Linked DNA regions of Homo sapiens. The protein of the gene in region 1 interacts with the protein of each later gene in a biochemical or structural test. Each region holds a gene or a part of one and is shown in the gene's direction. Other genes may lie near its edges.

Evidence for each region.
Region 2: the proteins of UBE2I (region 1) and PIAS1 form a complex in vitro, tested with the Homo sapiens proteins (12 studies listed by BioGRID, with this or other methods).
Region 3: of the proteins of UBE2I (region 1) and SAE1, one has a biochemical effect on the other in vitro, tested with the Homo sapiens proteins (6 studies listed by BioGRID, with this or other methods).

Annotation. Positions count from the first base shown.
Region 1 is NC_000016.10:1,305,472-1,312,649, forward strand, and holds the start of UBE2I (SUMO-conjugating enzyme UBC9), read left to right. Parts: upstream 1-4,164; 5' UTR 4,165-4,302; intron 4,303-6,875; exon of another isoform or gene 6,876-7,132; intron 7,133-7,178. UniProt on the Homo sapiens protein: Accepts the ubiquitin-like proteins SUMO1, SUMO2, SUMO3, SUMO4 and SUMO1P1/SUMO5 from the UBLE1A-UBLE1B E1 complex and catalyzes their covalent attachment to other proteins with the help of an E3 ligase such as RANBP2, CBX4 and ZNF451.
Region 2 is NC_000015.10:68,057,303-68,064,322, forward strand, and holds part of PIAS1 (E3 SUMO-protein ligase PIAS1), read left to right. Parts: intron 1-177; exon of another isoform or gene 178-227; coding exon of another isoform or gene 228-278; intron 279-7,020. UniProt on the Homo sapiens protein: Functions as an E3-type small ubiquitin-like modifier (SUMO) ligase, stabilizing the interaction between UBE2I and the substrate, and as a SUMO-tethering factor. Catalyzes sumoylation of various proteins, such as CEBPB, MRE11, MTA1, PTK2 and PML.
Region 3 is NC_000019.10:47,126,359-47,133,842, forward strand, and holds the start of SAE1 (SUMO-activating enzyme subunit 1), read left to right. Parts: upstream 1-4,476; 5' UTR 4,477-4,572; coding exon 4,573-4,670; exon of another isoform or gene 4,671-4,754; intron 4,755-7,484. UniProt on the Homo sapiens protein: The heterodimer acts as an E1 ligase for SUMO1, SUMO2, SUMO3, and probably SUMO4. It mediates ATP-dependent activation of SUMO proteins followed by formation of a thioester bond between a SUMO protein and a conserved active site cysteine residue on UBA2/SAE2.

The DNA of each region.
Region 1 (7,178 bases):
AAGTGCTGGGATTACAGGCGTGAGCCACCGCGCCCAGCCTATTATCCTGGATAATAACTCCTTCTCAGATATGTGAATTTTTTTTTCTTTTTATTTTTAAATGAAGTCTCGTTCTGTTGCCCAAGCTGGAGTGCAGTGACGCCATCTCGGCTCACTGCAACCTCTGCCTCCCGTGTTCAGGAGATTCTCCTGCCTCAGCCTTCGAAGTAGCTGGAATTACAGGCGTGCACCACCACACCCAACTAATTTTTGCATTTTTAGTAGAGACAGGGTTTCACCATGTTGGGCAGGCTGGTCTCAAACTCCTGAGCTCAAGCGATCTGCCCTACTCAGCCTCCCAAAGTCCTGGGATTACCAGCGTGAGCCACCGCGCCTGGCCCGAGGCTGACTTTTGAGCTGGTTTTTGTGCGTGCTCCGGGGTAAGGGTCCACCTTCACTCTACTGCAGAGGCCCTTATTCCTCTGGGGGAATCGGCCCTCAGTGAAGAGGCCTCTGCTCTCAAACCCCTGTGCAGAGCCTGGCCCCAGCAGGCCCCGGAGGGGGCACCCAGGGCACTGGAGGTCCCGCCCTACCGCAGGCAGCTCTGCATCACACTTCCTGCTCCCCTCCCAAGGGGACCAGGGCAAAGGTGGGCGCGTGCCTGGCACAGTCAGCCACAAGCCTTGCCCAGGATCTTATAGTTACTGATTCAAACCCCCCACCCTCTCCAAGCCTCAGTTTCTCCTTTGTACCCAGGGAGCTGGACCCAACAAGTCCCCTCTCCTTGAAAACGTGTGCCAGGTGCAGGCTGCTCAAAGGACACTTGTGGGCTGAGGATGCACAACTGAGGGAGCCTCTTCCCTCCCCCACCTGCTCCATGCCCCTCACCCCCACCTGCTCCATGACCCTCACCCCTACCTGCTCCATGTCCCTCACCCTCACCTGCCACAGCCTCCCCAAACCCCAGCCCCTCCTGGCACTACTTCCCACCAGGACAGGAATTCTCTAGATGCCTGAGCCATGTCTCCTCAGTCCCTCACCACACACACACAGGGAACCAGGGCCTTGTCTTACTTCTCCTGTTCCACAACCTTCTATGGCTCCCATGGCCCACAGGTTCAGGCCCAGGCCCTCCCCAGCCACACACCACATCCAGTCAGTCTCCCCAAGCCCCACTCATGACAAGCCCCCCACCTCACCAGCCCTGCCCTCTCTGTGCCTGAGGCTGCAGCGGGATCCACCGAGGCCCGTGGCTGTCTTGCTTTTCTTCAGCCACGGCTTTTACTGGCTGACGCCTCCCCACACAGCCCTGTGCTGGCATCTTCGCCAGAAAGATGGCGTTGGAACCTTAGCCCATGTCAGGAAGCCAAAGGGCCATATCCCTCTGCCAGGCTTGCCCAGGGGGCTGGTTAAGAATGCAGATTTCAGCTGGGCGTGGTGGTCCACACCTGTAATCCCAGCACTTTGGGAGGCCGAGGTGGGCGGATCACTTGAAGTCAGGAGTTTGAGACCAGCCTAGCCAACATGGTGAAACCCCGTCTCTATTAAAAATACAAAAATTAGCCGGGTGTGGTGGTGCACGCCTGTAATCCCAGCTACTCGGGAGGCTGAGGCAGGAGGATCGCTTGAACTCAGGAGGTGGAGGTTGCAGTAAGCCAAGATGGCGCCACTGCACTCTAGCCTGGGCAACACAGTGAGACTCCATCTCACAAAAAAAAGGAAAAAAAAAAAGCAGATTCCCAGGACCTCAAGGCTGGGGGCCAGGACAGCAGGTGTCTAGACAGGCCACGGAGGCTCTGAGCCTGGGAGTTGCAGCCAGGCCAGGCCCCCGCTGGTCTTGGTGGGACAGGGCTGTGCATGGCTTCCAGGGACTGGATTCTGGGGGAGGCTGCCCCTGCTGCCCTGGACCCACATCCCCACGGCTGCGCCTCCCAGGCAGGCAGACCCAGGGTGTGTGGCTGCCCCTCCTGCTGCAGGTGCCTGACAGGGAAATGCCCGCTGGGGACCCTGTGGGAGGTGGTGGGGGAATGAGTGAGGGAGGGAGGGAGTGAATGAGTGAAGGAGGGAATGAGTGAGTGAGGGAGGGAATTAATGCATGAGTGAGGGAGGGAATGAATGAATGAGGGAGGAAGGGAATGAGTGAGGGAGGGAATGAATGAGTGAGGGAGGGAATGAGTGAGGGAGGGAATGAATGAGGGAGGGAATGAATGAATGAGGGAGAGAGGGAGGGAATGAGGGAGGGAGGCAATGAGTGAGGGATGGAATAAATGAGTAAGGGAGGGAATGAGTGAGGGAGGGAGGGAATGAATGAATGAGGGAGGGAGTGAATGAATGAGTGAGGGAGGAAGTGAATGAGGGAGGAAGGGAATGAGTGAGGGATGGAATGAATAAGGGAGAGAATCAGTGAGGGAGGGAGGGAATGAATGAGTGAGGGAGGGAATGAGTGAGGGAGGCAGGGAATGAATGAGGGAGGGTGGGAATGAATGAGGGAGGGAATGAATGAATGAGGGAGGGAATGAATGAATGAGGGAGGGAGGGAATGAGGGAGGGAGGGAATGAATGAATGAGGGAGGGAATGAACGAATGAGGGAGGGAATGAATGAGGGAGGAATGAGTAAGTGAGGGAGGGAATGAGTTTGTGAGAGTGGGAATGAGTGAGGGAGGGAGGGAATGAATGAATGAGAGAGGAAATGAGTGAGGGAGGGAATGAGTGAGGGAAGGAATGAATGAGTGATGGAGGGAATGAATGAATCAGTGAGGGAGGGAATCAGTGAGGGAGGGAATGAGTGAGTGAGGGAGGGAGGGAATGAATGAGAGAGGGAATGAGTGAGGGAGGGAAGGAATGAATGAGGGTGGGAATGAATGAATGAGGGCGGGAATGAATGAATGAGGGCGGGAATGAGTGAGAGTGAGAATGAGTGAGTGAGGGAGGGAATGAATGAGTGAGGGAGGGAATGAGTGAGGGAGGGAATGAGTGAGTGAGGGAGGGAATGAGTGAGGGAGGGAATGAGTGAGTGAGGGAGGGAATGAGTGAGTGGGAATGAATGAGTAAGTGAGGGAGGGAATGAGTGAGTGAGGGTGGCAATGAATGAGTAAGTGAGGGAGGGAATGCGTGAGAGAGGGAAGGAATGATTGAGTGATGGAGGGATCGAATGAATGAGGGAGGGAGGGAATTAGTGAGGGAGGGAGGGAATTAGTGAGTGAGGGAGGGAATGACGGAGTAGGGGAGGGAATGAATGAATGAGTGAGGGAGGGAATGAATGAATGTGGTCACTCCCCGCGGTCCCCAAGCACCCGGACACCGTGACCTTGGCTGCGGCCCCGCCGTCGGCGAAATGCGGGCGGGGGGGCCGGGAGAGCCCGGGGGCCAGCACGGTCGCGCGTTGGCGAACGGACTGTCCCGCGCGCTCGCGGGTCTGGGGGCCTCCCGACCCGGTCCTGCTTGTTGCGTGGGCGGGAGGGGGGACCGGAAGCGCCCCTCCCCCACGGGCTCGCCCCGCCCCCGCCGCTCGCGGTCCCCCACGTCCCGCCCGCGCCCCGGCCCAGGGCCAGCCCCCGGTTTAGGGAGCATCCACACTTCTCCTCCCGTCGGTCATGCTCGCATTCGGCCTTTTGTACGGGGTCAGCTCATTGGGCGGATGAGAAGGTGTCCCCGCCTACCGCCCCGAACTGGCCAATTGCAAGGGGTTTCACAGGGCGCTGAACTCGCGGGAGCGTCACCGTCCTGCGACGCTTCAGAGGATCCTTAGGCCTCAGTGGTCTTTGACCCCCGGCCCCAGGACCTGACCCCAAGGAAACCTCCGGGACCTGTGGCTGGAGAGGTGACCGCCAGGCATCCGGGGAGCCTTTGGAGATCTCGGCTTCCTTTTTCCCCCGCTGCTTGCCGGCGTGTCCTCGGGTGGACGCGGGCAGCCCGAAGGGGAGTTTACAGACGCTCCCTCACATCGGGGACGCGGCTCCTTTAAGGGCGTAGGTGTCCAGGGCGCCGCCTGACTGGAAAGTCGCCCCCCGGCCGGGCTCCTGGGGCGGACCCGGGGCGCGGGCGCGCGGCGGCGGGGCGCGGGCAACGGGGAGCGCTCGGCGGCGCGGGAGGCGCTCGGGGCCGGGCGGCAGGAGCGGCGCGCGAGGCAGGCGTGCAGAGGGCAGCCCCGCGTTAGGCCCCGCCCCGCGCGCCCCGCCCGCGCCAGGGTCCTCGGAGCTGCTCTGGCTGCGCGCGGAGCGGGCTCCGGAGGGAAGTCCCGAGACAAAGGGAAGCGCCGCCGCCGCCGCCCCGCTCGGTCCTCCACCTGTCCGCTACGCTCGCCGGGGCTGCGGCCGCCCGAGGTGAGCGCGTGCGGGGGCCGGGCCGGGGCCGCGGGGCGGGGGTCGGGCCGAGGCCTCTACTCCTGTTGGGCCCGGGCCCCCGACTGCCCCGCGCCCCGCCCCGCCGAGCCGGGCCCCGCGCCGCGGCCGAGCTTTCCGGGGAGCCCGAGAGGCCCCGCGCTCGGCGCCGGCTCGGTCCGCGCTGCTGGCGCCGCTGGGCTGCGGCCCGAGCGGCCGGGCCGCCGCAGGCCTTCGGGGCCGGGGCTCCCCCACTTCGCCCCCGAGGTGCGCCTGGCGCGGGGCCGGGGCAGCCACCTGCAGCCGGGGCCCCGCGAGGCCGCGCCTTCCTCCTGCGCGGGGAGCGGCTTCCGGGGTCACGGTCGCCCCGCGGACGGATAGGATGGGCCGCGGGGGGAGAGTCTTGGATTGCAACATCGCTGGCTCGCGGGGGTGGGGGCCGGCGAGCGGGCTTGTTTTCGGTGCCTTAAAACCAAAACAAGTGTAAGTTTTCTTGTGCCTCTGAAGATGCTCCGCTGGCGCTTGCTGGGGCCCTGAACGTGAGCGCCTCGCTGGAGGGGGAGTTTTATTCTGTTTTGGACATCTCTTTTTATCGGTTGAATAGTAGTTGGTTCTGGTAGTTAACGTGCGTAGGAGGAATGTAAGGGAATGATTAGTTGGGCTTGTGATCGTGGCCTGTAGTCACGCTTGAATCGCAGAATGAAGTGGTTTTGTTTGTATAATTGGAAGTTACGCTTAGTTTCTCTGTTTGCAAAGTGCCTGTCTTTGGGGAGTTCGGTTTGTTTCCTTTTACAGGACCTACCCCAAGTGTTTCTTGCTCTTCAAGAAACGTTGCCTTTGGGTAGAGAACCTATGCAACGGAAGACGGGACGGATCCTCAGTTTGCCCTGATTGCTCATTCAGAGAGGTCCGTTCCCTAGGCCACTGGGTGATTGCTGGTGTGCGCTTGTATGGTGTCTCAGGGTTTGGGATCTTGCTTCAGAAACATTCTCGGGGCCTGGGGCAGATCAGGTGCGGCCAGGTAAGCGTCTCCCGACTGCAGGTGCTTGGGTCTTGCAGAAGGGAATACCTCCCCAAGCCTGGGAGAGTTTGCATTTGGGTGCAGGAGGGCCTTTAAAGGCTTCTTGTGCCAGCCTGTCGTGGCGACCACCCGTTGTGGAGATCAGTGCGGTGGAGTTGTGGGAGGTGAGTGCTTTGCTCACCCTCAGCCAGGAAGTTGCTCTGAAGTCGGTGCTGTCAACCAGCAGAGCAAGGCGGTGATCCGAGAAGCTAAAGCTCAGCCGGTTGCGGGCGCCCAGCAGGAGGACAGAAGGCAGACTTTCGGGCCGCTCCTGGAGTGCCCGGCCCTGTCCCCGTTTCTGCAGTGTCTGGGCCTTGCCTGGCTCTAATAGATGAGGGTTGTTTTTGTCTTTGCATCATAAAAGTTTCTTGCTCTGAAGCGTTTAGTAACTACTAGCCGTTCACTAAGTGCCTATCTGTGAATTTGGAAGGGCAAATTCGATTTTCAGCGGAATTTTGAACGCTTGATCTGTGTTGTGATTACATTGTAACAGATTGGCCGCTTTCTCCAGAAGGCCAGTAGGAGGGGGTGCAGGGGGAGGGGCCTGGCTTCTGTCTGGGACACGGTGGGTGTGCACCTGTGGCTCCTTGCCCTGGCGGTGCAGTGCCTGTGAGACCACCCCGTGGTGCTGAGTGCTTTGGGGCAGGGGACACAGCAGCAGCAGCCAGGTCTTGGCAGGAGGTCTCGCAGGACCACCCCTCACGACTTCTCACACCTGAGACAGCAATAGCTAGGTGCTGGGACGGGGGCCTCTAGGCGGCTCTGTCCAGTCCTCAGCAGGAGGGCTGCCTGTGGCAGGGTCCCAGGCCCGTCTGGCCTCTCTGTGGCCTGGCCTTGCCTGGCTGTGAGGATAGCCTTGCCCATGGTCCTTCAGTGTCTGGAGCACTGGCCTGAGGCTTCAGAGACTTGCCTGATGCCTGGCCTCGCTCAGACCCCGGGCACCTGGGAGGTCGTGCCTCCTTGAAATGGCCACTCGCCAGGCTGCTTTGCACCGCACCGGGCACAGGCTGCGGCCACTCAGGAAGCCCATCCTGGGGCTGGGGAAGCGAGAGCTGTGAGTCCTCAAGTCGCAGCTGGGCTGCTCCACGTGGGAGTGGAGGGTGGAGGAACGTGTGGAGTTTCGGAGTCCAGCCCAGTGCGGAGACAGCCTTGAAACCGTGGTTGGCGGGCGCTCCACTCCGCTCTGGGCTCGAACCCTGCCTGACCATAGCTGTGCCCCCCACTTTCTCCCTGTCTGGCCCCTGGCTCCCCCCCCCTCACTTAGAGGAGGGCACGGGGAAGGGCAAACGGTCCAGAGGGCGGGCGGCCTGCGGGCTCCTCTGCATCATGTGAGGAGGGCGTGGGGAAGGACATCCCGGTGGGGCCCGGTCTGGGGCTGCCTCCAGCCCGGGCTGCCTGTCTTGGACTTAGTCGTGGACCTGGAGGCCAGTGCCCGGCTGGCCCCTGTCACCCTCTCGCTGTGACGCCAGCGCCTGCTGACTGGAGGACCCAGGTTCCTTCGCCTGCTTTTTCTCAGGCTGCCCTGAGGATCTGTGTTTGGTGAAAAGGAGCCAAATTCACCTGCAGGGCAGGCGGCTCTAGCAGCTTCAGAAGCCTGGTGCCCTGGCGACACTGGACCTGCCTTGGCTTCTTTGATCCCAACCCCACCCCCGATTTCTGCTCTGCTGACTGGGGAAGTCATCGTGCCACCCAGAACCTGAGTGCGGGCCTCTCAGAGCTCCTTCGTCCGTGGGTCTGCCGGGGACTGGGCCTTGTCTCCCTAACGAGTGCCAGGTGAGGCTGCGGCGGCTCCGACGCAGGTGGAGCTGCTGACCTGGCC
Region 2 (7,020 bases), on another chromosome or scaffold:
TGGAGGGTATTTTGTCATCTTTAGGAACTTAGAAGCAGGAGGGTGTGATGGCCAGATGATCTTGGTAGTTAATAAGCTGACAGCTTCATGAAACTCCTCTTAAAGTAATTTAAAAAAAAATATGTGTTTTTTTGGAGTAAAACTCAAACCAAGTTATAGTGCCATTTTAATTTACAGGAAGAAGAGTGGGAGAGAAGAAGTCCATCAGCATTTTAGTGGAGTAAATAATGAAATTAAATGGGAAGAGAAACCATAATTATAAAAGTTACTATGAGTGTGTCAGTGAATTCTATTGTTATTTTCTGCCTCTTTATTTTCAAGAAATAGCTACTTAATTTTGATCCTTACGCTGTAATTTGTCTGCTTTTATTTCAGATAGAGTCAAGTACATCTGATAGTTTATTCATGGATTTGATTTGAATCTCTATAACTTGCTTTTGTCAAGTGCCACATTTAGATGGCTTTTGTTTTATGTCATTATTTTTATCAACAGTATTTTAAAAACTCTACAGTATAGTTTATAAAATACTACGTATAGTTTCTAAGTATTTCATATGATTGTTTTGAAATACCTCCTTCTTTTCATCCACCGTTTTCTCCTGGGCGATCCCATTGTCTTTTTCTTCAAAGAGTTTCTTGTAATCCCTGTTGATTGCGGTAGTGCTTAGTGGCGAGTCCATAGCTGATTAACCTTGGGTGTCTCCTGGTGAACTCCATCAGCATGCTGCTCCAGGGTTCTTGCTGAGGCTTTTGAGTTTAGTGTAATTTGTACCCTTTTTTGCTGGTAACCAGGGATAAGAAAATAAAATGGCCAATGGTTGTAGCGGGAACTGGGAAAAAGTATCCAAGTCTCAGAAAAACTGGGTGTTTATGATGAGATGTAGCCTTTCAAAACAACAACCAAAAACGGATTCATTACTTCATAGAATTGATTGTGGTGTTTTCTGAAGTGTTTGACTCTGGCATGAAGCATCTTGCTTTTTTAATGTTTGAATAATAATATCTTACTTATATAGTACTTTGCAGTTCATAATATATTGCATTATCTCTTTTGATCTTTCCAACAGTTCTTTGAGGTAGGAAAGGCAAGTAATAACTAAATCCTTTTTATAGATAGAGAAAGTGAGCCCAGAAAGGGTACGTGACTATTGCAAGGTCATACAAATAAAAGTGGCAGGGACTTGAGCCTAGGTCTTGTGTAGTCCTCCTTAAAGGTCCTACAGCAGACCTGGAGTCCTCTAGGGTGCCCAGTTCACAGATTTCTACTTATGTTGTTGCTGATACTTTCCCTTTTGGAAAAGCTCTATGCTAGGGTATTTTTGGATATTCTAGGGCATTTTGCAAGCTTCCTTGCAAAAAGTTTGGAGTTTGTTAGTTGGAATCATACACATTAATTTTTGTAAGTATCATTTTGCTTGAGAAAATTTCAGAGAATCTGAGAAGTAAGCAGAAAAATAAACAGTACCTGTAATCCCAACACTCAGAGATATCATGGTTAACATCTGGGTATTTATCCACTTAAGACTTTCTCTCTGTGAGCATATGTATATGTATATTCATCATAAAAAGATACAACACTGTTTTTTATTTATAATCTGCTATTTTCATGTCTATCCAGGTTAGTAAATACAGGTCTATATGATCATTTGAAACCTTACATTGTGTTTTATTAAACTAGTCCCTGTCAGATTATTCTACTTTTTTTTTTTTTTTTTTTTTTGAGACGGAGTCTTCCTCTGTTGCCCAGGCAGTAGTGCAGTGGCGCGATCTCGGCGCACTGCAAGCTCCGCCTCCCGGGTTAACACCATTCTCCTGCCTCAGCCTTCGGTGTAGCTGGGACTACAGGTGCCCGCCACTACGCCCCGCTAATTTTTTTGTACGTTTTTAGTAGAGACGGCGTTTCACCGTGTTGGTCAGGATGGTCTCGATCTCCTGACCTTGTGATTTGCCCGTCTCGGCCTCCCAAAGTGCTGAGATTACAGGCGTGAGCCACCACCGCGCCAGGCCCAGATTATTCTCCTTTTTTTGCAGTGTGTTTGCAGACATGTACCAAAGTTTGCAGATGTTTTATTTTAACTAAATATATTGATATGACAGATCTTTTTTGTGCTTTAGAAAGCAATGCAGGACCGGATGCCATGGCTCACACCTGTAATACCAGCACCTTGGGAGGCTGAGGTGGGCGGATCACGAGGTCAGGAGTTGAAGACCAGCCTGACCAAGATAGTGAAACCCCGTCTCTACTAAAAATACAAAAAATTAGCTGGGCGTGGTGGTGGGCGCCTGTAATCTCAGCTACTCAGGAGGCTGAGGCAGGAGAATCGCTTGAACCTGGGAGGCAGAGGTTGCAGCGAGATTGCGCCACCGGACTCCAGCCTGGGCTACAGTGTGAGATTCCGTCTCAAACAAAAAAAAAAAAAAAAAAAAAGAAAGCAATACAAATGTTTATTTTATTTTTGTAGAGTCAGGGGTCTCACTGTGTTGCCCAGGCTGGTCTCAAATTCCTGGCCTCAAACAGTGCTGCCTCGGTTTCCCAAAGTGTTGGGATTACAGGTGTGAGACACTGTGCCTCTGTGCTCGGTTTTTACAGGTGTGAGGTACTGTGCCACTGCACCCACTCTACAAAATTAGCTAAAATGTTGTCAGTGAAATAAATTAGTCATTCTTGGTTTGTTCATTGTCATACCTTTATTGTTTATGTTTCTGTAATATGTGAGATAAGATTATTAAATGATGGCAGATACAGGTTTTACAAAATGTAAGCAAACATTACTTCAGCATCAGAATGTTTGATAAAGTATGAAATCGATTATGAAGTAGTATTTTATAATCTATTCATACTATTCTATGAATAGTAGAATTTCAAGTAGGCAAGTATGTTTGATTTTGGAAATTATATCACAGTGACCACATATTGCAAGTTTTTGTACCTTATTTAGATGCTTATCAGTTTTTTTTGTTTTGCTGGGATTACAGGTGTGAGCCACCACGCCCAGCTGATGCTTATCAGTTTTTAACTGGCATTTTAAAACTATATTGAACATTGCCAGACGTGGTAATCCCAGCACTTTGGGAGCCAAGGTGGACAGATCACGAGGTCAGGAGTTCGAGACCAGCCTGACCAACATGGTGAAACCCTATCTCTACTAAAAATACAAAAATTAGCCGGGCGTGGTGGTGCGCACCTGTAATCTCAGCTACTCAGGAGGCTGAGGCAGGAGAATTGCTTGAACCTGGGAGGCGGAGGTTACAGAGAGCTGAGACCGTGCCACTGTACTCCAGGCTGGGCGACAGAGTGAGACTCCGTCTCAAAAACAAACAAACAAAAAATCCCCCAAAAAACAAACACTATACTGAACATTAATATAGAGAAAATGGAAATAAGACTTTACCATATTTTTAATCTCAAAACAAAGTGTTGCCATTTAAATTGGGAGGTAACATAGTTTCAAGGATCCACAATCTCTGCCTCCGGGGTTCAGGCAATTCTCCTGCCTCAGCCTCCCGAGTAGCTGGGATTACAGGCATGCGCCACTGCGCCCAGCTAATTTTTGTATTTTTAGTAGAGACAGGGTTTCACCATGTTGGCCAGGTTGGTCTCTATCTCTTGACCTCGTAATCTGCCCGCCTTGGCCTCCCAAAGTTCTGGGATTGTAGGCGTGAGCCACCGTGCCTGGCCCAGGATCTGGTTTTAGAAAGATAACATAGGCAATGAAAGCATTTTTATTTTTAGAAAAAACCTTTATGAGTTAAACCAATTAATAAATGCATATGTGAATTAAGAATGCTATTTGTGCAACATCTGAAAAGTAGTGCATGTAGAAGGAACTTGAAATTGATCGTACTCTAAATTTGATTCGTTCGACTTTGGTCTTCACCTAAATCTGTATTTATGTAACGTTTTATCATTAGGATTTCTTTGAAATAGGCAGTAGAGACAATTTTAAAGTACTTAGTTGTCTTTAACCATCAATTTCAGAAGTAGTATTAATTGCCACTGCACTTTTTGCTAGATGTTTATGACTATATTTCCCCTTCCATGTTAAAAATTGTGCAACTCCTGTTACTTTTGATTCCCTCTACTCTTGGTTTCAGTAGTGTCACATGAAAAGAAAATTCCCTAGAACCCTTCCTTCAGAGTTTTCTGGTAAGTCTTCATTCTTAGCTATGAACTTCTAAAATTCGTCAAAATGAAGAAACCACCTTTTTATTTTTCAGCTTTTCTTTAGATCAAGCAAACAAAACAAACATAAATCCTTTGAATATTAACTAATGATGGAGATATCAGTAACTCTCATAGGACTGTTGTAAACGTTCCTATTTTTGAAAACTTAATCTCTTTTTTACCTTTTTTGCTATTCACTGCTTTCAGTTTACCCGCTTTGGTTGCCGGGTTAATTTCACCAAAACACTCCTTTCATTCTGTCACTCCTATCTATAAAAACTTTGAATGGCTTTCTATCGAAAACTGGATAAAGACTTAGTTCTCAGTCTAGTATTCAAGATTTTCTATTGTCTGGCCCCATTCCACTTTGTGTGTGTGTTTTGTCTCTTCAGCTGTATAGCAAAAGCCCTTAACTTAAAGCCAGAGCTGTTAGTTTGCGTCTTTTTGTTGGCTGGTGTTCTGTTTGTACACCCCCCATTCTCCCATCCCTACCCTGTGGACACAATAGGTGTTTTTAATATACATGTGTCAGATGAACAAATTATGTTTAAGATTTGTTTCTGTCAGAGACTGGGGCCTGATACTCTTGTCTATAAGACAATCTAAATTGAAAATATTTTTAGGGTCATATCTTCGCTCTTTTTTCTTGCTGCTGCTTAGATGAACTTGAATAACATTAAATCCAGAATAATTTATCAAGGGCTGTTTTAGATTTACCTTTTACATTATTTTAAGTTATAGAGATAATAAGTGACTACACTTCTCATTGTAATGATCTAACAGTAAATAGGGTAAAAATGGAAAGACCTCATCATCTTCATTCTTAGAGGGAATCATTTTGGTGTATATCTGTGTATTCTTATTTGGGTGGGCAGGGGGAGGTGACAGCTTTATTGAGATAAAATTAACATATCCCATTACAGTTCACCTCGTTAAAGTGCACAGTCAGGTAGTTTTTGGTATATTCACAAAGTTGTGTAACCATTAACCACAATCAGTTCTAGAATATTTTTTCACCTCGAAAAGCAACCCTACATCCTTTTAGCATCATCCCCTTCCCAAACCTTACCTCACTCTTAGCCCTAGGCGACTGATAATCTATTTTGAGTCTCTGTAGACTTGCCTATTTTGGGCATTTAATATAAATGGAATAAAAATATGTCACTTTTTGTGTCTGGTCTTGTATTCATTTTTTTCTCTGCATGGGCATTTAAATGTGTATGTCTGTATAATATTTTTAATTTATTGTGTGTGTGTATGTCTAGATGAGAACAAAACTAGGCACATAGAAGGAACTTAAGTGAATGTACATGTACATAAATATCTTTTCTAAAACTGTGAGACCATACCATATGTAGCATCCTACAGTTTGCTTTTTTTTACAATAGATAGTGAAGATCTTTCCATGACATGTCCAGACAATGAGATGGTCTCATTCTTTTTAACAGTGTGTAATATTTCCTATGTATGTTTATAGAGATTTACCTCTTGAATTTATCAGTGTATATGGTTAAAAGTTCTTAACAACTTGTTTTGATGGTTTTGCTATACACTACTGGTTTTTTTAAAAAAATAATTGCCACATTTAATGTAACCTCTGTAGTATTAATGCTGGAGTTTCACTTAACAATAGGAATGAAAACATCACAGGTAAGGGTTGTATAGCTTGAGGAGAAATGGAATGCAGGGTCTTTATGCAGTTCTGGCAGTGCTCAGCCAAAGCAATTCATTTTGTATTTGGGTTTCTGAATGTGAGCAAGCCTGTTTTTAAAAAAGCTCATGGCATAGTGCTTAAAATAGAACTTAACATGCTATCTTGTGCTTTATGGTGAATTTTAAGACTTTTTCTTGCAGTCATGCAAGTCTAATCTTAAAGATTGGAAAGATTTCAGAGTAAATATTTTTTCTCATATGTTAAAATCATCATTCTGGTCTATGGGCTTCTGTAAGTTACCCAAGAAGGGGACTGAAGAGGCACAGAACTGGCTCAGAAACTGGCTTATAGTAGATTCTCAGTAATTGTTATTTATTAAAGAATTATTTATCACATTCTGTTATTTATTATATTTTTGGGTATCTGCTGTGTATGAGGTACCAGGTTATTGGTGATTTTAATATATTATCACATATGTGTGTATATTTATTTAAATATTTCTGTTATAGCGGAATGTTTACTAAAAATTATCTTTTTAAAAATTATACAAGTAATGCATCAGTTCTTACAGAGGTTTTCAAAGTCTATTTCTCAGGCCTCTGGTGGTTCCCCGAAGTTTTTCTGAGGGTTCTCCAGGTCAAAATGATTTTCCTAATAATAGGCATTATTTACGTGCTGACATTTGCAAAATCAGTGGTGGGTAAAACTGCCAGCACCTTGGCACAAATTAAGGCATTGGTACTAAATTGTACTAGTAGTTGTGTTCTTCATCACTGTGCACTTGGAATTAAAAAAAAAAATGCCAGTTAAACTTTATGTCCTTGATGAAGCAATAAAACTTACTAATTTTATTGTATCTCAATCCTTGAGTACATTTAAAAATATATTTTGTATGATGAAATGAAAAGTACCTGTAAAACACTTTTATTGAATATCAAATCTGATGGTTAACTCAAGGAAAAGAACTTGTGCAGTTGAGTTGTGAGCTTTTTAAATGGAATACCATTTTTACTTGAAAAAATGGCTGGCAAAGTATGGTTATACAGACTAGGGTATTTGGCATACATTTTCATGAAAATAAACAAAGTGTGCCTGTCACTACAGGGAAAACAACTGACAATATTTGTTACTAATGATAAAATTTAAGCTTTCAAATGAAAATAGAACTTTGGAAGACATGTATTTGCCACTGTGAGCTTGA
Region 3 (7,484 bases), on another chromosome or scaffold:
AGGAGAAAATAATTTATGCAGCAATTAGCTTTATTTTCAGGGCTCTTTTTCTTTTCTTTTTTTTTTGTTGAGACGGAGTCTCGCTCTTTTGCCCAGGCCGGAGTGCAGTGGCGCTATCTTGGCTCAGTGCAAGCTCTGCCTCCTGGGTTCATACCATTTTCCTGCCTCAGCCTCCCGAGTAGCTGGGACTACAGGCACCCGCCACCATGCCCAGCTAATTTTTTGTATTTTTAGTAGACACGGGGTTTCACCGTGTTAGCCAGGATGGTCTCGATCTCCTGACCTCATGATCCGCCCGCCTCTGCCTCCCAAAGTGCTGGGATTACACGCGTGAGCCACCGCGCCTGGCCAACAAAGTGATCATTTTACAAGAGTTATGGCATAGTCACAGGTAAGAACCTGGGTCACTGGGTCACTCCCTAACCAATTACGAATTACTATATGCCATGGACCTTCAGGATTACTTTCTTTTTTGTTTTGTTTTTGTTTTTTTTTTTGAGACAGAGTCTCGCTCTGTCACCCAGACCGGGGTGCAGTGGCGCGATCTCAGCTCACTGCAACCTCTGCCTCCCGGATTCAAGCAATTCTCCTGCCTCAGCCTCCCGAGTAGCTGGGATTACAGGCATGTGCCACCACGCCTGGCTAATTTTTTTGTATTTTTAGTAGAGACCGGGTTTCACCATATTGGCCAGGCTGGTCTCGAACTCCTGACCTTGTGATCCACCCACCTTGACCTCCCAAAGTCCTGGGATTACAGGCGTGAGCCACCGCGCCCAGCCCAGGATTACTTTCTTTCTTTCTTTTGAGACAGAGTTTTGCTCTTGTTGCCCAGGCTGGAGTGCAATGGCACAATCTCGGATCACTGCAACCTCCACCTCTCAGGTTCAAGCGATTCTCCTGCCTCAGCCTCCCAAGTAGCTGGGATTACAGGCATGCGGCACCATGCCTAAAATTTTGTATTTTTAGTAGAGATGGGGTTTCTCCACTTTGGTCAGGATGGTCTCGAACTCCCGACCTCAGGTGATCCGCCCGCCTCGGCCTCCCAAAGTGCTGGTATTACAGGCATGAGCCACCGTGCCTGGCCTCTATTTTTCTTTCTATAATCCATGTACATTTTCCTTTAATAATATAAGGCAACTAAACAGCACTTTATTTTCAGAGGCTTATCTAAAAGATACTTGACACAGCCCTTTGCAGCTGGGTCATTCTCTGAATTCTAAATGTCGTTTCCTGCACAAAGTGGTTATTTGATCTTGTAACTGGCATTTTCCCCGGAGATTAGGAAGTGGCACACCAAAGTGCAAAAAACTTTGGAATCAGAACTTTAATTTTTAATCTTTATTTTATTTATTTATTTATTTTTGTGACAGAGTCTCGCTCTGTTGCCCAGGCTAGAGTGCAATGGCAAGATCTCCACTCACTACAAACTCCACCTCCCGGGTTCAAGTGATTCTCCGCCTTCAGCCTCCTGGGTAGCTGGGATCACAGGCGCACACCACCACACTCGGCTAATTTTTGTATTTTGAGTAGAGATGGGGTTTCACCATGTTGGCCAGGCTGGTCTCTAACTCCTGACCTCAGGTGATCCTCCCGTCCATGCCTCCCAAAGTGCTGGGATTACAGGTATGAGTCACTGTGCCCGGCCTAATTTTTATATTTTTTTGTAGAGACGGGGTCTGGCTGTGTTTGACAGCCTCAAACTCCTGGCCTCAAGTGATCCTCTCAAAGTGTTGGGATTACAGACATGAGCCACAGTGCCTGGCCTATTGAAAGCTTTTCCATCATAATAGGTCCTTCCCCCCAATGCTTGCAGCAAGTCAATAGTAGGAGACCCCAGGTTGCAGCAGAGAAAGAGGTTTAATCATAGGGGCCACTGAAAACCAAGAGAGGAGATGGAAGGAACCACGAATCCACTTCCCCAGGGAGTTCGGGGCTTTTTAAGGGTTTTGGAGTGGGTTGAAGTGTGGAGGTCATTGGTTGGTTGAAGTGTGCAGGGTGAAGTAATGAAACAGGGAGTTGAAGAAACTCTATTCTCCTGTCGATTTGGTTCCTCTGCGGGGTCTTCACACTGGTTGGTATCAGCTGTTTTGCTGGAATTCAGGATCTGAAAAATATCTTAAGCTTTTTTTTTTTTTTTTTTTTTTTTGAGACAAGGTCTGTTGTCCAGGCTGGAGTGCAGTGGTGCCATCATAGCTCATTGCAGCCTCTAACGCCTGGGCTCAAAGGATCCTTCCACCTTAGCCTCCCAAGTAGCTGGGATTACAGGCACGCACCACCACACCCAGCTAATTAAAAAATTTTTTTTTTTGTAGAGACAGGGGTCTTGTCATGTTGCCCAGGCTGGTCATGAACTCCTGACTTCAAGTGATTTTCCTATCTCAGTCTCCTAAAGCGCATGGATTACAGGCATGAGCCACCATGCCGGGCGCTAAGCAATTCTTATTATTTATTTATTTATTTATTTATTTATTTTTTTCTGAGACGGAGTCTTGCTCTGTTGCCCAGGCTGGAGTGCAGTGGCGCGAACTCGGCTCACTGCAAGCTCCATCTCCCAGGTTCATGCTATTCTCTTGCCTCAGCCTCCTCAGTAGCTGGGACTACATGCGCCTGCCACCACGCCCGGCTAATTTTTTGTAGTTTTAGTAGAGACAAGGTTTCACCATGTTAGCCAGGCTGATCTCGAACTCCTGACCTCGTGATCCGCCCACCTCTGCCTCCCAAAATGCTGGGATTACAGGCGTGAGCCACCACCTCCGGCCTAAGCAATTCTTAAATAAAAATCTATGATTCCGCCAGGCATGGTGGCTCACACCTGTAATCCGTGCACTTTGGGAGGCCGAGGCGGGTGGATCACAAGTTCAGGAGTTCGAGACCAGCCTGGCCAACATGGTGCAATCCCTGTCTCTACTAAAAATACAAAAGTTAGGTGGGCATGGTGGCTTTTTTTTTTTTTTTTTTAGACGGGAGTCTCTGTCATCCATGCTGGAGTGCAGTGGCAGGATCTTGGCTCACTGCAACCTCTGCCTCCCAGGTTCAAGCGATTCTCCGGCCTCAGCCTCCCAATTGGCTGAGACTACAGGCGTGTGCCACCACGCCCGGCTAATTTTTTAGTATTAGTAGAGATGGGGGTTTCACCATCTTGGCCGGGCTGGTCTCGAACTCCTGACTTCGTGATCTGCCCTCCCTGGCGTCCCAAAGTGCTGGGATTACAGGCATGAGCCACTGTGCCCTGCCAAAAAGCCTATGATTCTAACATCAGAAATCCTTCCACCTCAGCCTCCCACGTAGCTGGGACTATAGACTCAGTACCACCACACCAAGCTAATTTTTGTATTTTTAATAGAGATAGCGTTTCCCTATATTGACCACCTGGGGCCATCCCTGGTTTTTTTTTTTTTTCCCTTCCTTCCTTCCTTTCCCTCTCTCTTTCCCTCCCTCCTTCCTTCCTTTCTTTCTTTCTTTCTTTTTTTTTTTTTTTTACAGAGTCTTGCTCTGTTACCCAGGTTGGAGTGCAGAGGCATGATCTTGGCTTACTACAACCTCCGCCTCCCGGATTCAAGCAATTATCCTACCTCAGCCTTCCAAGTAGCTGGGACTACAAGTGTGAGCCACCATGCCCTGCTAATTTTTTTATTTTTACTAAAGACGGGATTTCACCACATTAGCCAGGCTGGTCTCCAACTCCTGATTTAAAGTAATCTGCCTGCCTTGGCCTTCCGAAGTGCTGAGATTACAGGTGCGAGTCACCGTGCCTGGCCTATTCCTGTTTTCTTAACGCTCCTCTCTCCCACTGGGCCGTGACTGCCTCTAAGGCAGAGATGTGTTCATTTTTATTATTATTGTATGTCCAGGGCTGGGCACAAAGTGCAACACATAGTAGGGACATGAAAGGCTGGGCACAGTGGCTCATGGTTGTAATCCCAGCACTTTGGGAGGCAGAGGCGGGAGGATGGCTTGAGGCCAGGAGTTGGAGACCAGCCTAGGCAACAGAGGGACCCCATCTCTATGAAAAAAAAAAAAAAAAATTGACAGTTCAATGTCACCTCTGATAAGCCTTCCCTGACCACCCCTGTTACTCTGTAGCCCCATGTCCTGCTTTATTTTTCTCCAAAGCATTTATCATCGCTGGGTTTATATTTATTTCTCTTCGGGCTTTTCTCACTGGATCGTAAACTCCATGAGGACAGGGCTTTGTCGATTTCACTCAATACCGTTATTTTACAACATCCCTATTGCTGGGATCTCAGTATGCACTCCTTAAATATTTGCAGAATTTAAGTGCCACATAAGTGACCACGTGGGCAACGCCCTCGGGGCCTTAAGCCGCGCCATTTTTGGGGCTAGGATTGGTTGGACCCTCCGTCACGTGACATGCAGTCGCCGGATCGCCTTTGAGTCTCGTGAGGTACTTTTGGTCCCAGGCTCCGCGGACGAGGTACTGCGCAGGCGTGGGAGGGTCTGCGCATGCGCAGAAGCACTCCGGGCGTGCTGCCGGCGGCGGTAGGTGGCGCGCGGGTCCGGCGGGCGGTTGGCTTGAGCGGGACCGGAGCTGAGGCAGGAAGAGCCGGCGCCATGGTGGAGAAGGAGGAGGCTGGCGGCGGCATTAGCGAGGAGGAGGCGGCACAGTATGACCGGCAGATCCGCCTGTGGGGACTGGAGGCCCAGAAACGGTCAGGGCCGGCGCGGCTTGAGGCCGCTAGGGTCTGGAGGGGGCGTCTATTCTGAGGCGTTTGCGGCCCGGAAGGAGCGGGAAGGTGTGATTTGAAGGGAGGAGGCGGGAATTCTGTGCTCTGGGATCGTCTCTCTCTTGGGGGGACTGGAGGAGTTGATTGGGGATGTTTCTGGAAGGTCTGGGAAGTGGTTGGGAGGGCCGTTCCGAAGGATGGGAGCTCTGAAGGGGGCGTTGGGGAGTCCTGAGAGAGCGGGAGAATTCAAACTCAGGAAATCCGAGGCCCGAAAGCGGTGATTGTGGGGTTTGATCGCGGTTAGGGGATAAGAGGGGCTGGGGATACGTGGAAAGGGTGAGGTGAGGGACGCAGTTCATTCATTCGAGGGTATGGGACCTGGTTCCGTGCTGCACACAGGGGAGACTGGACTGGCCAACCGGACAGACGGGAGCTTACACTCTTGTGGGAGCTCACGGGCGGGCCAGTCTGAGAGAATGCGGGTTTTGAGGAGTTTTGGAGCAAGTTATCTCAAATGGGAATCTTGAGAGGCTCGGAGAGGCTGGAGGGGGACGGCCGTAGGCTCCCGAAAAGGTTGCTTGTGTTTGGTATGGGGCTGTGTCTTGATAGGACAGGAGACGTAGTTTGGGCATTGTGGAGTAGCTTAGGGAATTCTTTTTTTTTTTTTTTTTTTTTTTGAGATAGTCTCTCTCTGTCGCCCAGGCTGGAGGGCAGTGGCGCGATCTCGGCTCACTGCAACCTCTGCCTCCCGGATTCAAGCGATTCTCCTAACTCAGCCTCCCGAGTAGCTGGGATTATAGGGGCCCGCCAGCACGCCCGGCTAATTTTTGTATTTTTAGTAGACACGGGGTTTCGCCATATTGACGAGACTGGTCTCGATCTCCTTACCTCAAGTGATCCACCCGCCTCGGCCTCCTGAAGTGCTGGGATTACAGGAGTGAGCCACCGCGCCAGGACGTCTTTTGTTTTGTGCAGTTGGGTGACCTCGGTTCACTGCAGCCTCTGGCCTCCCGGGTTCAAGACTTCCTCTCACCTCAGTCTTCTGAGTAGCTGGGATTACAGGCTCGCGCCACCATGCCTGGCTAATTTTTGTATTTTTAGTAGACATGGGTTTTCACCATGTTGGCCAGGCTGGTCTCAAACTCCGGACCTCAAGTGATCTGCCCGCCACAGCCTCCCAAAGTGGTTGGATTACAGACGTGAGCCACTGTGCCCAGCTTGTTTTTTTTTTTTTTCTTTCTCTGTGGCCCAGTGGAGTGCAGTGGTGGGATCACAGCTCACTGTAGCCTCAACCTCCAAGGCTCAAGGGATATTCCCTCTTCAGCCTCCCAAGTAGCTGGGACTACAGGCGTGCCCCACCACATCATCCGACTAATTTTTGTTTTTTTTTTTTTTTGTAGGATGGGGTTTTGCCATGTTGCCCAGACTGGTCTTGAACTCCCAAGCTCAAGCGATCCTCGGCCTCAAGAGATCTCCCCCCATCTCAGACTCCTAAAATGCTGGGATTACAGGCATGAGCTACCATGCCTGGCCTCATTGATCAATATTTTTACTTAGCCTGGACGCAGTGACTCACACCTGTAATCCCAGCACTTTGGGAAGCTGAGTTGGGGGGAGGGGACCTCTTGAGCCCAGGAGTTTGAGACTAGCCTGGGTAATGTTGCCAAACCCAGTCTCTACAAAAAAATACAAAAATTAGCCAGGCATGGTGACATAAGTTTATAGTCCCAGCTTGTCAGGAGACTGAGGTGGGAGCATCACCTGAGCCCCTGGGAGGTGGAGGTTGCAGTGAGCCATGATCACACCACTACACCCCAGCCTGGGTGACAGAGTGAGGCCCCGTCTCAAAAAAAAAAAAAAAATCCACAAGCGTGTGTATATGTGTCAGTTATTAAAGGATGGTGAAGTGAGAGGGTTGTTTTGATAGGTTGGCCAGGGAAGGGCTCTGAAGAGGTAACATTGAGCCTCAGACTTATATGGGAAAGAGCCCTGTGGTCATCTGGGAGAACTTTCCTAGCTAAGAGAACAGCAAGTGCAAATTCCCAGAGGCCCAGGCATGATTGTCAAATTAGAGAAATAAGGTGGCAGGAACCAAATGATTTGAGGAGTAGCTTTTATTCTAAGTGTGTGGGAAAACCTGTTGGAGTGTTTTGAGTGTGGGAGTAACATGATCTGTTTTTTGTTTGTTTTTTGAGACGGAGTCTTGCTCTGTGGCCCAGGCTGGAGTGCAATGGCACGATCTCGGCTCACTGCCATTGCAGTGAATCCGCCTCCCAGGTTCAAGCGATTCTCCTGCCTCACCTTCCTGAGTAGCTGGGACTATCGGCATGTGCCACAACACCCGGCTAATCTTGAGTATTTTTAGTAGAGACGGGGTTTCACCATGTTAGACAGGATAGTCTCGATCTCCTGACCTCGTGATCCGCCTGCCTTGGGCTCCCAAAGTGCTGTGATTACAGGCGTGAGCCACTGCGGCCTGGCCTGGTTTGTGTTTTAAAATGATCGCTCCAGAATAGGTTAAAGTGGTCAGAAATGGAAGTAAAGATTCTGGCTGGACTGTTGCAGTAATCCAGTTGAGATAAAAATATTGGTGGCTTGAAACTCAAGAGAAGGGGTCAAATAAATATATTCTGGATATATTTTGAAGGTAGAAGAGGGAACAGAATTTGGGGCAGAAGTCCAGGATGACACCACTGTTTTTGGCTTGAGCACCTACCTGGAACGATGGAATTGCCATTTTGAAAGATATGGAGAGCTGTAGGTTTGGTGGGGTCGGGGAAGAGTCAGTTCTCTTTTAGG